Regions from separate parts of the Homo sapiens genome. Here region 2 is linked to region 1. The links come from fine-mapping of genetic effects on gene expression. A gene starts in region 1. The other region holds a variant in brackets. All regions are shown on one strand. Distances are between the middles of the regions. Region 1 holds the start of CCDC59 (coiled-coil domain containing 59). Region 2 has its middle 89 kb from the start of PPFIA2.

Region 1 (8,348 bases):
ATAAGAAAAACTATACTAAATATTTTCAAAGTAGAACTTACTTGTTTCTTAGCAGCACGTTTGGCTTGTATCTGTTCATATTCTTCTTGTGCTTTTTGATTTGATGTTTTCTTTTTATTTTTCTTTGGAATTGTAAAGGAGCTTTTAATTGGGGGATGAGGAAACAGGACTTTATTAGTAAAATGTCCAAAAAGGTATTAAAAACACAGTTGTAGCTTTTAAGAGTATATATTAAATAAAAGGCACAAATGGGGATTCTTAGAGAAATATTTCAACTAGGAAAAAATATAGAAAGCTATGAAAAATCCTAAAATGTTAAAAAAAAAAACTTTTAAAAGTAATGAAACCAGTATATGAATGATAGAAATGCCAGACTGAAAAAAGAATTAAACTTGTTGTTTAAGGATGTTAAGAAAATTATGTGTATATATGAACTTTAATCTCGAAGTTTTCTGAGCCCCTCCTCTCTATTCCATTTTACCTACCTAGTCATGAATCACCATACCTTGGATCTAGATACCATTTTGAACTGTTCTATCTTTAACTACTTCTCACCTCTCTGAAGATGTCCTTTTTGTCAAGGCTAATCCAACTACTTGGAATTCCATTCATTTCCTCAGCATCCTTGATTCAGTAATAACTTTACTTTCCTCTATCATTCAACTTTTCACTATACTCTGTAACTACAATATAATATTTTAATAGCTACTAATCACTAGCGACTTTGGACTAGTGACTAGTGACTGCCTAGTCCACAAATCCAGAGACCTGTCCTCAGTCCTATTCACCTTCAACTTTATAGTACAGTAGCACACCCCTTATCCATGGTTTCCCTGTTCCACGGTTTCAGTTACCTGCAGTCAACAGAGGTCCAAAAATATTAAATTGAAAAATTCCAGAAATAAACAATTCATATGTTTTAAATTGTACACCACACTGAGTGTTTGCTTTAAGTGAAAAGGTAAAAGTTCTTGACTTAATAAGGAAGGAAAAAAAATCGTATGTTGAAGTTGCTAAGATCTATGGTTTTAAAAAAAATCTTCTATACATCAAATTGTGAAGGAAAAATAAATTCATGCTAGTTTTGCTGTCATACTTCAAACTGCAAAAGTTATGGCCACAGTACGTGATTTAAGATGGAAAAGGCATTAAATTCCCAAGTAAAAGACATTAACAGAAATACATTCCAATTGACAGAAACTGGGTTTGGTACCATTTGCAGTTTCAGGGCATCCACTGGGGGTCTTGGAACATCTTCCAAACAGATAACGGGGGACCACAATATTTGATAGCTGACTAATCCCTCACAACTTTTCTCTGTGGACTGAGCTGTCACTGTATTTCTCTTTCTCCAGTCCTGAAAAGCTTAACTTCCTCAATGACAATATTTTCCCTGTTTCCACCCCAAAATAAACCGTAATCTTTAAAAGCATGATTTTTTACCTTCCTTTCTCATGATTTAAACTTCCTTACTTCAATTATCAGAGAATAACTCAAATCTACATTTCTACTGCTAATCTTTTCCCTGAACTTTATACTGATTATTTAACAATATAATGATCAAGCCTACCAAAAGTAGTAAACTTTTTGTGTCTCTGCCTTCATCCCCAATTACATTTTTACCCCCCGTGGTCCCATTTCCTGTTATTTTTAGCGCAAATAGCTCACGACTTTAAAAGATACGGTTTTAATGAAGTAAAAAATTATGCTCCCAAGTTAATACCCAGCTTCTTGCAATTTTAGATTTTAGCATTGTTTTTTAACTTTAAGTATGCAGCGATAGTTTTTTATAAGTTAACTCTTATAAAACCAAAGCGTCACGGAGCTGTGCATTTGCAATTGCAACCCATTTCTGGTCCTCTGCAGAAAATCCAGATTAATAGTAGTAGCTAACGCTCAAGAGCACTAACCACGTACCATATATACCCTTTAAGATCCTCATATACATTAACTCGCTGAGTCTTCACAACAATGTCATGAAACACCTTAGGAACACCTGAGTTTATGTGAGTAATCCATTCTGGAGCTGTGCAACATGGCAGCTCTGAAGTATATATTCATTACAGTATTATCTTTCCCAATTTAAAGAGGACATAGTGTTATTTTTCCCATTTTAAAGAAGAGGTCACTGGGGCACTAACATGTTGAGTCTGGCTCTAGAACCCATACTGTTAATGACTAAAATTATAACACCTCTCAGAAGTTATTTTTCAAAAATATAGTCATAACATATGGTCCAATCAAGTTACCACCTGTACTTGAGAGGAAGAAACCCAAATTCCAGAGCTCTTAATTCCCATTACGTTACTTTGTCAATTAGGCTAAACCAGCCTAATTCAGTTATTGAAGCTAAAAATAGAGCCTCCATGAAAATGTTTCCCTAATTAAACCGTGACTTCTAAAATGTGTTAAATAAGAAAAAATACAATTCCTATATAAATTATCCTATAGTACTTTTAAATAATAAAACAACACTTAAAGGATTTCAAATGAAGAAAATACATACTTTACTGTTTTAATACATTGTTCTTCTGGCTGAGGCTGGTCAAAGCTACACTGATCTTCAAATAAAGGCTCGTCAATGCTACACTGTTCTTCAAGCAACGGCTGGTGAACTTGTTCTGACAAAGGATGGTCGACTTTTCTTGCTTGCTTCCTATGTCTTTCCTCTTCAGCTAAATAGAGATGTTTCAGATTATCTGGGTATCGATCTGTGAATTGAGATTCCAGTGACGTTTGAGCCTTCTTTTCCTTCCGTAGCAATTTCTTGTAACTTTGCTGTATTTTCAGTTTTCTTCGAAAAGCAAAGCCTTGTCCTACATTGAGGAATATCATCCAAAATTACTTTCAGAGAAAAGAAGTTGAACGAAGAATGGAGCTGTTAATTACAAATGAAAACTTTTTTTACGTCATCACATTCAGATTCTAGTATTATATTTTGCTTTAAAAAATTATTTCAAGCAACAAATTTAAGCTGATGGATTGCATAGTAAGTTGGCCCTTTGCAAAAAGACCAGGCTAACAGTCATGCGGAAATCCAAGTAAGAATCTCAAAGAAAAACTGACCAGTTCAGACTGTTGCACAACTTGAGTTTACAGCTGTATTCACAAATCAAAACAAATTCCTTAGTTCATCTAAAACACTTAATCTGAGCCTTCAATAAATGCTTAAAAAATAGGAAAGAAAATGCCACATCTAGTATCTTGGACAAACTACATGTTTTCGAAAATGTTTCAACACGAAAGAAAAAGACAGTGTATGGTTGTCTGAAAAGCTAGCAATTATCGGAAGACTGAATTTAACATTTATATATTCCAAGTGGGATCTAAGAGACCTTACAGACAGCAATACAAAATGACAAACACAAATTAAAGCGAAGGCTGGAGGGCCTCGGGTATTTGTAATAAGGAAGAATTCGGAGCAGTGTTTCTGGCCCTGTCCTCCTCTCTATCCTTTACCTTACCACATGCGCAAGAGTTCACAGGGTCATAGACTCTCTCTGCTCAGTTTCTCAGGAAAAATATAGGAAAAAAGTTCTGATGAAATACAGGGTTACGTCAGAAAAGACGTTTAAATAATAGCAACACTGCTCCGTCTTCCTATCTAGAGCTCTGCGAAGCTCACAGCTTTAGCGGGCTCAGGAATGAATTCCCTTGCCCCAAGTAGGACCGGGTCTGGTTCCTAAATCCTTCTTCCAAGCTTCAGCGAATCTTATATCCTAAAACTTAGCAAGCCTGAGGATTTGCAAATGGTTGCCTTCTTACATACCCTCGCGAACGCTCCCCACGAAGGCTTGCGGGTGGTTAGGCCGCCATGTCTTCTGTCTCACATTCTTATTCCTGTACCCGACAGTGGAAACCCCTTCACCACGCGCCTCAATACCACCAGGCCGCCACTTCGCGGACCGCCTCACCGGCGCCATTGCAGCCGACTAACTGCGTCATCAGAAGACCACGACGGACGCCCACAAAATACGTCACCAAGCCGAAGCAATCAATCGCTCAGAAGGAATCCGGCTCGGAGCTCTACTGAGCCTGCCTGTGCTAATTTGGGCCGAGCTGGCGCCTCACGGCCATGTTTGCGCCACCTACAGCCTCGGAGGGTGAGCGTCATGGCGGCTTCTTGCCCTCTCCCGGTGACCCCGGACCTGCCCACGCTGCGTGCCAAGTTGCAGGGACTGCTGCAGTTCCTGAGGGATGCCCTGTCCATTTCCAATGCACATACCGTGGATTTCTACACAGAATCCGTGTGGGAGGAGCTGGTCGACTTGCCACCGGAGACAGTGCTGGCTGCGCTGAGGAAGTCAGCGTCGGAGACGGAGGCCCTGCCCTCAGAGACGCGCCCCCTAGTGGAAGCAGAGTGGGAAGCAGGTGGGTGGTGGGGTAGGCGGGGCGGGAAGGGAGGCGGAGGAGAAGGTCCCGGCAGACGAAGCGAGCCCCCTGGTGGAAGCCAGCAGAACCAGGTGCGTGGCGGCGGAGGCGGGGCGGCCCGCTGGGAAACCGAGGAGGGGTCGGATTAGTTGAGGGGTGGGGTGGGGATGTTCTTTGGAATCAGGATCACTCTTTCTTTGGGTGCTTGTGTATGTCCACAATTTAAAGAAAGCAGGAAACAGGGCAGGGGAGTTCCTTCATCTAGTAATTCCATAATAATTGACGCTAGGGAAACTAGGGGAGCAGTGCTCTCACAGGTTTTATAAATGCCAGCATGTGGTGGAAGATTACTCAACAGTTAATAAAGATAATTTCAAGTGGTGGTAATGAAGTAGAAAATAAAAACAGTGTAATGTGGTAGGGATTGTGTAAGGAGGCTGCCTCAATTTAGGAGGTCAGGAACATGAGAAGGCACTAGCTGCAGAGCCACAGGGAGGGGTTGCAGGCGGTGGGAACCGCAGGCTAGGCTTGGCTCTAGCCAGGTGAGGGGCTGCAGGTGCAGGACGGGAGGCAAGCAGAGGCCAGATGGCACAGGCCTTTCTAGGCCTTGGAAGGATTTTGGATTTTAAGTGTGACGGAAACCCTTGGGATTATTTAGGCAACATAGTGACCTAATTCACATTTGAAAAGATAACTGTGAATTATTTGAAGAATAGACTAGGGCAAAAGCTGAAGCTGAGAGGCCAGTTAGGAGACTACCTCAGTAGTACAACAGATGATTGTATCTTGGACTAGGATGGTATTCGGATAGTCACTATTTCATTTAAAAACTATTTTAAAGTACCTAATATGTGTCTTGAATTTTTGTAGGCTCAAGCTTTTCCTACCCTCAAGAAATGTAGATTCTTCTCAGGCAAGCATATTTTGGAAGTAGAATGATGGACACCAACAGGCTTCTGGGATTTTTACTTTCCTTCTAGACTTCCCAAAGTTACCCTTACTAGTGAACTTTATTCATTGAGCATTCTCTGAATGCAAAGCATCACTAGAGGGACCTCTTATAATAGCACTTGGTAAATACTGTTGTTGTTTTTTTAAGTAATTGTTATTGAAAAGTTAGGCACTTCTTCAGTTTGCTCTCATAATAAATATATGGCACTTATGATATGACAATTTTACTTAAACTCCAAAAGAGCAGAGTCTTTGTCTGACTTGTCAACTGATGTATTCCCAGCACTTGGTAAAATACTTGGCATACATTAGATACTGGATGAATATTTGTTGAATGGAGGAATTAATGAGTTACTCATGTTAGTTTTAAATAAATAAAATGAAACTACTCTCAAGTTTAGAGTGTAAGACTTTAATACGTGTTTAGCCTGGTCTCCAGACAATGGTAGAGTCAGATTGTCTTACATATTCTAATAATAATTGGATTATTTGATATTTACTATATACCCTGTAGTGTGCTAAGTGTCTTCATGTGTATTTTCTCTTTTAATCTTTACATCAGCCTTGCAAGATAGGTTCTGTTATTGTCGATTTGTGGAATTATAACTTGAGGAGTTAATTTGCAAGGGATATAGCTGATAATGGAAGATTCTCAAACCTGGGTCATCTGATTTGAAACTTTTTTAGTGCTGTAAGAAAAAAAGTATACTAGATAAGGGAGGAGTAAGTAAGGGGAAGAAGAGGAAAATGTTTGCATTTTTAAGTAAGTTGTCCTGGCAAGACCTCACTGAGGTGACTCTAACGCTGAAAAGATAAGAAAAAAACCGAGCCATGAAGATCTCTGGAGGGAAAGCAGTCCATTTAGTGACAACAGGAAACAGAAATGCCCTGACGAGGGAGCCTACAAGGTATGTTTAAGGAGCTGTAAGGAGACTGAAATAGATTTCCACTAGGGACTCACAAGGAGTATGGTCTTGTGTCCGGAATTGTTAGGTTCTTGGTCTCACTGACTTCAAGAATGAAGCCACAGACCCTCTCAGTGAGTATTATAGTTCTTAAAGGCGGCGTGTCCAGAGTTTGTTCCTTCTGATGTTTGGATGTGTTCGGAGTTTCTTCCTTCTGGCGGGTTCGTGGTCTCGCTGGCTTCAGGAGTGAAGCTGCAGACCTTTGCGGTGAGTGTTACAGCTCACAAACGCAGTGTGGACCCAAAGAGAGAGCAGCAGCAAGATTTATCACAAGGAGTGAAAGAACAAAGCTTCCACAGGGTTGTCGCTGCTGGCGCCAGCAGTCTGCTTTTATTCTCTTATCTGACCCCACCCACATCCTGCCGATTGGTCCATTTTACAGAGAGCTGATTGGTCCATTTTGACAGGGTGCTGATTGGTGCATTTACAATCCCTGAGCTAGACATGAAAGTTCTCCTAGTCCCCACTAGATCAGCTATACACAGAGCACTGATTGGTGCATTTACAAACCTTGAGCTAGACACAGGGTGCTGATTGGTGTATTTACAATCCCTTAGCTAGACATAAAGTTTATCCAAGTCCCCACTAGACTCAGGAGCCCAGCTGGCTTCACCTAGTGGATCCCACGTTGGGGCTGCAGGTGGAGCTGCCCACCAGTCCCATGCCGTGCGCCCGCACTCCTCAGCCCTTGGGCGGTCGATGGGACCAGGCACTGTGAAGCAGGAGGCGGTGCTCGTTGGGGAGGCTTGGGCTACGCAGGAGCCCACGGTGGGGGGGAGGGGGACTCAGGCATGGCGGGCTGCAGGTCTTGAGCCCTGCCCCGCAGGGAGGCAGCTGAGGCCCGGTGAGAATTCAAGAGCAGCGCTGGTGGGCCGGCACTGCTGGGGGACTTGGTGCATCCTCCGCAGCTGCTGTCCTGGGTGCTAAGCTCCTCACTGCCTGGGGCCAGCGGTGCTGGCCGGCTGCTCTGAGTGCTGGGCCTGCCAAGCCCACAACCACCCGGAACTCGCGCTGGCCAGCAAGCGTGGCGCGCAGCCCTGGTTCCCACCCGTGCCTCTCCCTCCACACCTCCCTGCAAGCTGAGAGAGCCAGCTCCAGCCTCGGCCAGCCTAGAGAAGGGCTCCCACAGTGCAGTGGTGGGCTGAAGGACTCCTCAAGCGTGGCCAGAGTGGGCGCCAAGGCTGAGGAGGCGCCAAGAGCGAGTGAGGGCTGCCGGCACGCTGTCACCTCTCAGTCTTCTGCTGATATTTTGTGAGGAGTTACAAGTAAACATAATTCCCAGAGCGCAATGCACAGTTTGGAAAAGCACACTAACAGATGTTCGGCACAATCATTTGGTGTTTTATGGAACAAAGTTTTTTCTAAAAGTCCTCAGTGTGTCCATTTCAGTAGGTTTCATGTGCCAGGTGATCTTCTTGTCTCATTAGAGTCCTAAGAGTTTCTTCTTCATTGTTCGTCTAAAAAGAACTAGAATAAAATATTTAATTCTCTAAAATAAAAAGCAAATATGTTAGAAATAACTATCTTTTCAGTGCATAAATTATGGCTTTCCAGACAGACTTCCTGGGGTCAAATATTGACTCCAGCACTTAGTAGCTGTGCTAACTTGGGCAATTTACTTCAACTCGTTGTACATTAGTTCCTCATCTGTAAAATGGGGGTAACTTTAGTACCTGCCTGATGGGATACTGTGAAAGGTAATTCAGCTAATATATAGAAAGGGATATCTTTCACGTGAAGTGAACAGCAGGTGCCCAAGCTGGAGCACGCTTGGTGCATTTTAAACACAGCTGAGCAGTCTTGGTGAGACCGGTGAGAGATGGCATTTGGAGGTAGCCCAGGACATCCTCACATAAAACTTGTAGGCTGTACTCAGTATTTGGCTTTTATTCTGAGTGAAATGCGAAGCTCTTTGAGAATTTTGTGTGGTGATGTGATACCGTGTGATTTATGTTTCAAATCACCTGGTTTCTGTGTGGAGAAGAGAAGGTAAGAAAGGTGAAGGAAATTAAGGGAAGAAACAGGAATACAATATAAGAGGCTATTAAAATAGTCCAGGGA
Region 2 (8,348 bases), 510 kb before region 1:
AACAGGAATAATCCCCTTTGACTATATAATTGAGTCATTGTTTTTGCGCCATTTGCTACCTTAGTTTACCATATACTAACAACTGACCTAGAATTGTTGTGAAGAACATTTTAACACATAGCCTCACTGACAGTAAAATCTTAGTAAATGTTAGCAATTTATAAGTAATGCTTTTACTGGGAACTATTTGTTGATATTTACTAGTTCTGTTAACAATCAGTTCCTTCTATAAGAAGCTAAAAGAAATGTCAATCAACTTGATAAGAGTATAAACACTAAATCCAACTTGTTAAGCCCATAATATGAACATGCTATTTGATTCAAAAAGTATTTTATATTATCTGAAGTAAACATGTTATTCTGTCAATAATGAACTTCCAAAGTTTTTCACAATAAGTGCCTGCTTCTTTTATATTTATCAAGGTATTTATTTAATACATGAATACATGAATGATCCAAAATAGTAACTGTCTTAAAACCAGCTTATAGCAACTTTGTATACTGGTCTCAGACAATGCAGTAAAAATGAATGTATAGAGGTTCAGCAATTGTTTTCCAGCCTTCTTTAATGTTGAAGGGAGTCAATAACTAAAATAGCCCAGCTGTGAATTTGATAAACTGGTAGTGCTATATTTAGTAATCCATTCAATAATCAATAAGCTATGAATTGTATTGGATGTATAAATATAATCTAGTGTAAAAATTACTCTTTGACAGACTATATCAGAAATATTATTTCTTAGAAATTCTTTTTGACTTGGTTAACATGTTCTCAGTCATTTCCACAATATCAGTCATCAGATTGTTGTTTTATACAGAAACAAACCCCCTTCACAAGCCATCATTCTCCAACTCTTTAAAATCATATAGGATTTCTGTGTATTTCACAACTAATTAAATGGCAAATTATCTTTACTTTCTGTTTTATTCTGTGGGAAGTATTATAAAATCCAAGCCACTGAAACAGATGATGAATTTGACTAAAATAAGAATGTATTTTTGCACAATAATGAAATATTTAAGTGCACTGTATTTGCTCCTTGACACTTTTTATAAGTTAAAAAATAATATTACCCAATAGGTGCTTTTTGAGCCCTCATCCTCCACCTTACTTCCCCCCTCTAGTAGTCCTCAATGTCAATTGTTCCCATCTTTATATCCATATGTATTCAATATTTTCCTCCCACTTATAAGTGAGAGCATGTGGTATTTATTTTTCTATTCTTGTGTTAATTTGCTTAGGATAATGGTCTCCAGCTGCATCCATGTTGCTGCAAAGGACATGATTTCATTCTTTTTTATGGCTGTGTAGTATTCCATGGTGTATATGTACCACTTTTTCTTTATCCAATCCACGGTTGATAGGCAGGTAGGCTGATTCTATGTCTCTTCCATGTGAATAGTGCTGTGAAGAACACACGAATATATGTGTCTTTTTGGTAGAACAACTTATTTTCCTATGGGTATATATCCAGTACTGGGATTGCTGAGTCAAATAGTAGCTCTGTTTTAAGTTATTTGAGAAATATCCAAACTGCTTTCCACAGTGGCTGAACTAATTTACATTTCTACAAACAGTATATAAGCCTTCACTTTTCTTTATAACCTCTCCAACATCTGCTATTAAAGTTTTTATTATTTATTTATTTATTTCAAATATTAAAGAGTTTATCTGAGCAAAAAGAATTCAAAAATTGGGCAGCATTCAAAATCAAAAGAAGTTCACAGAGCTCTGCTGCAACAGTGTGGGCAATGTGCTTTTAAGAAAATATATTTGATTTATTAGAGTGGAAATTCTCTAGGTAGAGGTTAGTTGGTGGTTTCTGATTGGCAAAGTCTTTAGTTTTGTTTTACTGTTTACATTGGGCTTTTGGATTGCTTATATAGGAACCCAAAGTGTTGGAGTCATCTCAGCCTGATGACCTCCCAATTAAAAAAAAATTGTAACATCTTTAAGGCAATGGTCTTAAAAATTTCTATTTACTCTCTTTTTTAAAAAAAAAAATGCATGCACAGGTTTGTTTTATAGGTAAATTGCATGTCTCAGGAGTTTTGTGTACAGATTGTTTTGTCACCTAGGTAATAAGCATAGTACCCGATAGATAGTTTTTCAATCCTCATCCTCCTCCCACCCTCCACCCTCAAGAAGGCCCCAGTGTCTATTGTTACCTACATCATTTCCATTTGAGAACAAATTTTAGCTCCCACTTCTAAGTGAGAACATGCAGTATTTGCTTTTCTGTTCCTATGTTAGTTCACTTAGGATAATGGCCTCCAGCTCCATCCATGTTGCTGCAAAAGATGTGGTCTCATTCTTTCTTATGGCCGCATAGTATTTCATGGTGTATAAGTATCACATATTCTTTATCCAGTTTACCATTGATAGGCATTTAGGTTGATTCCATGTCTTTGCTATTGTGAATATTTTTAAATAATAGCCATTTTGACTGGTGCAAGATGGTATCTTGTTGTGTTTTTGATTTGCATTTCTCTGATGATTAGTGATGTCGAGCATTTTTTCATGTTTATTGGCCACTTGTATGTCTTCTTTTGAGAAGTGGCTGTTCATATTCTTTATTCACTTTTTAATGAGGTTATTTAGTTTTCTGCTTGCTGAACTGTTTAAGTTCTTTACAGATTCTAGACATTAGACCTTTGTTCAATGCATAGTTGGCACAAGAAAAAACAAATGTTGGTGAGGATGCAGAAAAAGAACACTTATATACTGTTGGTGGAAATGAAAATTAGTACAGCCAATTTGGGAAACAGAAGGTAAGTTTCTTAAAAATTTTAAACTAGAACTACTATATAATCCAACAATCTAACTTTAAGGTATATACAAAAAGGAGTTGAAATTAGCGTGTTGATGAGACATCTGCACTCCCACGTTCATTGCAACATTATTTACAATAGCCAAGATACGAATCAAACTAAGTGTCCATCAGTGAATGAATAAACAAAGAAAATGAGTATATACACACAATAGAATACTATTCAGTCTTAGAAAAGAAGGAAATTCTGTCATTTGTGACAAGGTGAATGAAACTGGAGGACTTTATGCTCAGTGAAATATGCCAGACACAGAAAAATAAATACTGTATGATCTCACATATACATGGAAACTAAAAAATGTGAATTCATAGAAGCAGAGAGTAGGATGGTGGTTACCTGGGGATGGGGGCCAAACAGAGGGGATGAGGAGATGTTGGTCAAAGTGTACAAAGTTTCAGTCAGACAGGAGGAATAAGTTCTGGACATCTGTTGTCCATTACGATGAGTATAATTAACAAAACATATTGTATACTTAAAAATTGCTAAGTGAGTAGACTTCAAATGTTCTCATTACAAAAAATAATAAGTATGTGAGTTAATGGATATGTTAATTAGCTTGATTTAATCATTCAACAACATAGACCTATACTGAAACATCACATTGCACATAATATACACAATAAAAAATAAATAAAACAATTTAAAAATTAAATAAAATAATATTAAAACATTTCTCATGAATATACTCATGAAAGACAATTATCTGAGGAAATGTGAACTAAAAATAAGTAGTAAAATTTTCTTTTTTCCTGAGTCAAATTTGGGAGTTAGGGAAGCTTCCTCTGTTTTCTGTCAAGGATTAACATGGTTCTGTAGATTTCCCAAAATGATCTGCTTATGGAAGAATATATTTAAACCTAAATGGCAACGTAAACCAAGGATCAATGGTTATCAGTACAGTTTAATAAAAAGCAAATATAAATCAACACTATTTTCCAAAGATTTTCATAATTAATTTATAAGTAAAAATTAATTTAAAAATTAAGTAAAAATTAATTATAACATTAATTTAAATTAACTAAAATAACTAAGTTACAAATACTTTGGTAATTTAACATTCAAAAATAAATTATAAACTTCCACACAGGCATATTTGTAAATGAGGGGCTCCTGACCAATTGTTTCTACTAGAAATGTTTTCTGGAAAATTAAACAACTTCAAATTTAATATGACTGAAATCTTCATATATAAGTTACAGAGATAAAATCATGTGTCCCTTAAAGAACAACAACAGAGTTGTAGTCCTTAAATATTGCCTTAATGTCTTGAAGATCACAAAGAAAGCAATCCCAAAACACTTCTTATCATAAAATGCAAGTCAATGTTCATGAATGCATGAATAATACAGCCTTTTGGTGTTTCAGTGTGAGTCTATTACATCTGAAACTGATTTATATAAGAAAACAAATTATATTATAAAACTAGATATCTAGAAGAGTTAGGGTAGTTAATGCATGATACATGCAATCAGATTATCTTAGTCTTCCCGTTCTTGCATATTCCAAAATCCAATTCTTTCCCAACATGAAGAGAAAATTGTGTTCCTGACCAACTAATGTCTGCATGCTGTTTTCTCATATTATTTTATTCAGCATAGCCTGTTCCTAACGTAGTCAAATA[C/CA]AAAAAAAAAAAAAAAACCTATGAGGAAAGCAATAATTTTAAAGAACTACACGGGGCCTGAGTGTTTATCTGGCTTCAATTTACAGAAGAAAACCAGGAAACATGAAAATATCGGGAGAAAATAAAATGTAACTAAATAGGAAAAGATACCTTTGATGGAGCAGTGATTCTGAATTCATTCAATGCTTGCTCTTCCACATAAATGGGCAGCTTCTGCTAGTCTGTCCTTTCCATCTGAACTAGATAATGGTAGCTAATATTTATTTCATATGCATTATATGCCAGGTATCTTTGCAAGCACATTAAATACACTAAATCACTTAATCTCTGCAGGAGCGTATAGAATAAATTATTATTATCCTGTTCACCATTTAACAGATAATATTATATGAAATAATATGGAAGTTAATATTACCCGTAATTATAGAGAGCATAGAATTTGTCATCTATTTTGAAATACTTTGAGAATGAAAGTATGAGTAATTAGGACAGACATTAATTAGGGCTGTCACAGGCAAACCAAAACATATGATCATCCTACTTGTATTAAATAACGGTTTTAAGAAAATAGAAGTGACATTATAAATATTCTTTTAACATTTAAAAATTAGTACAATTTTGAATTTTTATTTTATTAGTTTCTAATACTTGAGACGGACTATATAGTATTGCAGTATTATTCACAATAGGTAGCAGTGTCGATAGAATTTTCAGCAATGTTTGTTTTATACTTCAAATAAGCAGGAAAAAAATTTGGCAGAGGACCCAGATAAGAAAAATACAGATAATTTTAGTTCCCTTTAGATGTACAGAAATTGCAAACTTTAAGATAAAATTGCTTAAGTCTTTATAGGAACCATATCTATTGCAAAGGTTTCTTGTTCTCAGAAATGTCAGCATAAAATAATTGCTAAAAGATATAATGCATTCACTTAACACGTTTGTTCAGGACATATATGCAATCTAATATTTCTTTTTACTTAGATCTAAATACTGAATAGTTAAGAGTCACAATTATTCAGAGAAATTGACTTATCTAACATCTATTGACTACCTACTATGTGCGGAGCATTTAAGGATGTTGAGAAGAAAAACAGTTAAATTATACTTAGGGGGATGCAAGTAGAGAAAGACAGAAGAGTCACTAGGTACATAATTGAACAATCATGACATATCAGCTATTAGTAATTGATATAAAAATAGATTATTGAAATAGTAACTTAAAGGTAGCAGAGTTTTGCTGGGTTTTCAAGGAATTCCTGTCACAGGAGTAAACACTTGAGTTGGAATTTTAATGATAGGGAATGAATGAGAAAGTTGGGGGAAGCATTTGGGGCAGAGGAAAAAGCAGATGCAAAGACCTGAGTTGGGAACAAATCCAGGTAGCTGAAGGGGCGGAAGAATCCAATAAGCTAGAAAGTAGATACAGCAGGAGAGCATGGTTCCAAGTAAGGTTGGGAGTTGACCCAGGCCAGAGCACAAGAGTTTGGGGACATAGTACTTACTATGGGTTTAATCTAAGCGCAAAAACAAATGCCATTAGAGTCTTAATCAGTGGGTACCATTATTTGATATCCTTTTTAGATGTATCACTTTGGCTACAATACAAATAACAGATTATGGGAGGGCAGAATGGAAACAGTGAAATAAGCAGATAGCTAAACAGTGGCTTCCGTTTGGGTGGGGGTATTGGAAATGGGAAGTGGTGGGTTCAGTTGGAATATATTTCCAAAATTGAAACAAGAAAGATTTACTGAAATCATAGCTCCTTTTTCTGTCATAATTGTTGCCTCATTAATGAGACCAGTTTTTTATTTTTCTGTTATAGTTTGTTTCGTTTTTCACCTGTCACGGGATTCAGGGAGTCAATTAACAGATTTCAGGTGTTCAGTGAACTCCCTACAATTGTATGCAAAATAATTGAGTGCATTTATTTATGTATACAATGTTAAGGGGAAAAGAGTTAATTACTGTCATCAGGTAATCAGAGGTCTGTGACCCAAAGTGAGGCAAGAACTATTGAGCTTATATTTCTAAATATTTCATACATGGTTTCCCATGACCTGGTTATTTTTCTGTTTTCTTCTCTTAATATCCCTGCCTGGTAATTTACATTTTAATAATACTGAACTGCTTCATCTCTTTCCAAATACACTGATATTTCTTTCTCCAATATCTCTTCTCTATTATAATGCTGTATTATTTGCCTCAGCATTTTTGGTTTGGCAAATTTTCCTCATCCTTCAAGTTTTGGCTAAGACATCAACTTCTGTTAGAAGTATCATCTGAACTCCTAAATTGAGCTTAATCATTCCCCTTATATGTCCCAAAAGTTTATTTAAAAGATACTGTGCTTTAAAGCTTTAAAATTTAGGTGGAATATAACGCCTGATTTGTGATACACTCTAGATGAAGGTAGCAATTATTTCATTATAGAATTCCCAAACAATAACATATAATTTCACATTATTTATTGTTCATATATGAAATACTTTATATATATATATATATATATACACACACACACATATATATATATGTAAGGTATATATAGACATATACCTTGTTGTTCCTGTCTAATCCCTCTACTTCAAACTTCAAACTCATGTGATGGTCCTGTATTTCTTAATAATTTCAGTTTATAACAATTTATACCTAAATACAGGACAAGAACTGTGCTTTTAACCTGTGTTTGTTTTTGAGGCTTAAAAAATTAATTTTCAGACAATTCTGGTTATATTTCTCATTTGGTCTGCCACAGTGTATTCTCAATATGACTTTCCATTACAAACGAATGTACATAATTACCAACTTATTTAATATCATTCATATGGTATAATGTATATTTTAAGCAATTTTTGAAATTACAAAAATATTATAATCATTTTACAGAAGAGAGAAAGAACAATAAATGAAGTCACTCAAAATGCTACCAGTTTAATACACTGTGATGTGATGCTGTTCCTCAATTTAAGATTTCTTTTGTCCTTTTTTCCATACTTACAATATCTATCCCTTTTTTCAACTTAAAAAAAAGTATCTTCCTTTTTAATGTAAATTTTATAGTGCTTAGTTTTGAATTGTATACAATATTCTTATGTAAATAAACTATTAATTATGTAAGAATTTCTTTATTAGAGTCTATTTGTGAATTTGTTTTCATACTGGTGTTATTTCATTACACAAGATTCACAGTATTGGTATTACTGATCAAAGATAATTAACCTAAAATAGCTGTTGATACAGATTGCCTAATGTATATCCAATACAGTTGTACAATTACAAAGTCACCATCAATAAAGGATAAGCCACTGTATATCACATTTTCCCATATAAATATTATTCACTATATCTTATTTAATGGATGCATAGAACATGATTTTTCATTTTCCTTTATTTTGCATTAGTATCATTGTGCAACTGAAATAGAATTTTTAAAATTATACATTTAAGTACTAATGATATTTCCTCTTTTGTTTGCCTATTTCCCGTTCATCATGTTATTTTTTTCCTCATTAACTTGTAAAAATTATTTTAAAGACAAGCAATTACTTCTACCATACTTGCAATTTTGTCTTAAAATGTGTTAACACACTGAACACTAATTGAACTATTTTATGTCACAAGCACCATGACAACAGGTTTATATACACCGGCTCACTCAATTCTTAACAATAATTATGAGACAGGTGCTATTGTTAGCTCCATTTCATAGATAGGAAACTAAGGTATACAACAATTAAGTAGCAGTAGGAAAGCCGGATTCCAAAATCAAGCAGATTGATTTTCAAGCTCTGATTAGTTCCTCAGAAAAAATCTAACGCCTTACAATGATATATTTCCTTTGGTTTATCTTTGAGCAGAGTTATTTAAGGCTCTGACTATGAAGAATTCC

What was found. PIP is the estimated chance that this variant, and not a neighbour inherited with it, causes the effect.
Region 2: its variant is fine-mapped to the expression of CCDC59 in whole blood (INTERVAL, PIP above 0.99).

What each region holds. Positions count from the first base shown.
Region 1 is chr12:82,354,454-82,362,801 of GRCh38, forward strand. CCDC59 (coiled-coil domain containing 59) reads right to left here and starts at 3,934. Exons shown (of 4, transcript NM_014167.5): 1 at 3,770-3,934; 2 at 2,507-2,816; 3 at 42-141. The coding sequence starts at 3,923. METTL25 (methyltransferase like 25) reads left to right here and starts at 4,076. Exons shown (of 12, transcript NM_032230.3): 1 at 4,076-4,371. The coding sequence starts at 4,113. RefSeq lists enhancers at 3,743-4,303, 3,814-4,373, 4,304-4,864.
Region 2 is chr12:81,843,967-81,852,314 of GRCh38, forward strand. No RefSeq gene overlaps it. Among named protein-coding and RNA genes, the nearest start is that of PPFIA2, 89 kb to the left of the region's middle. The variant C/CA (reference allele first, on the strand shown) is at 4,454.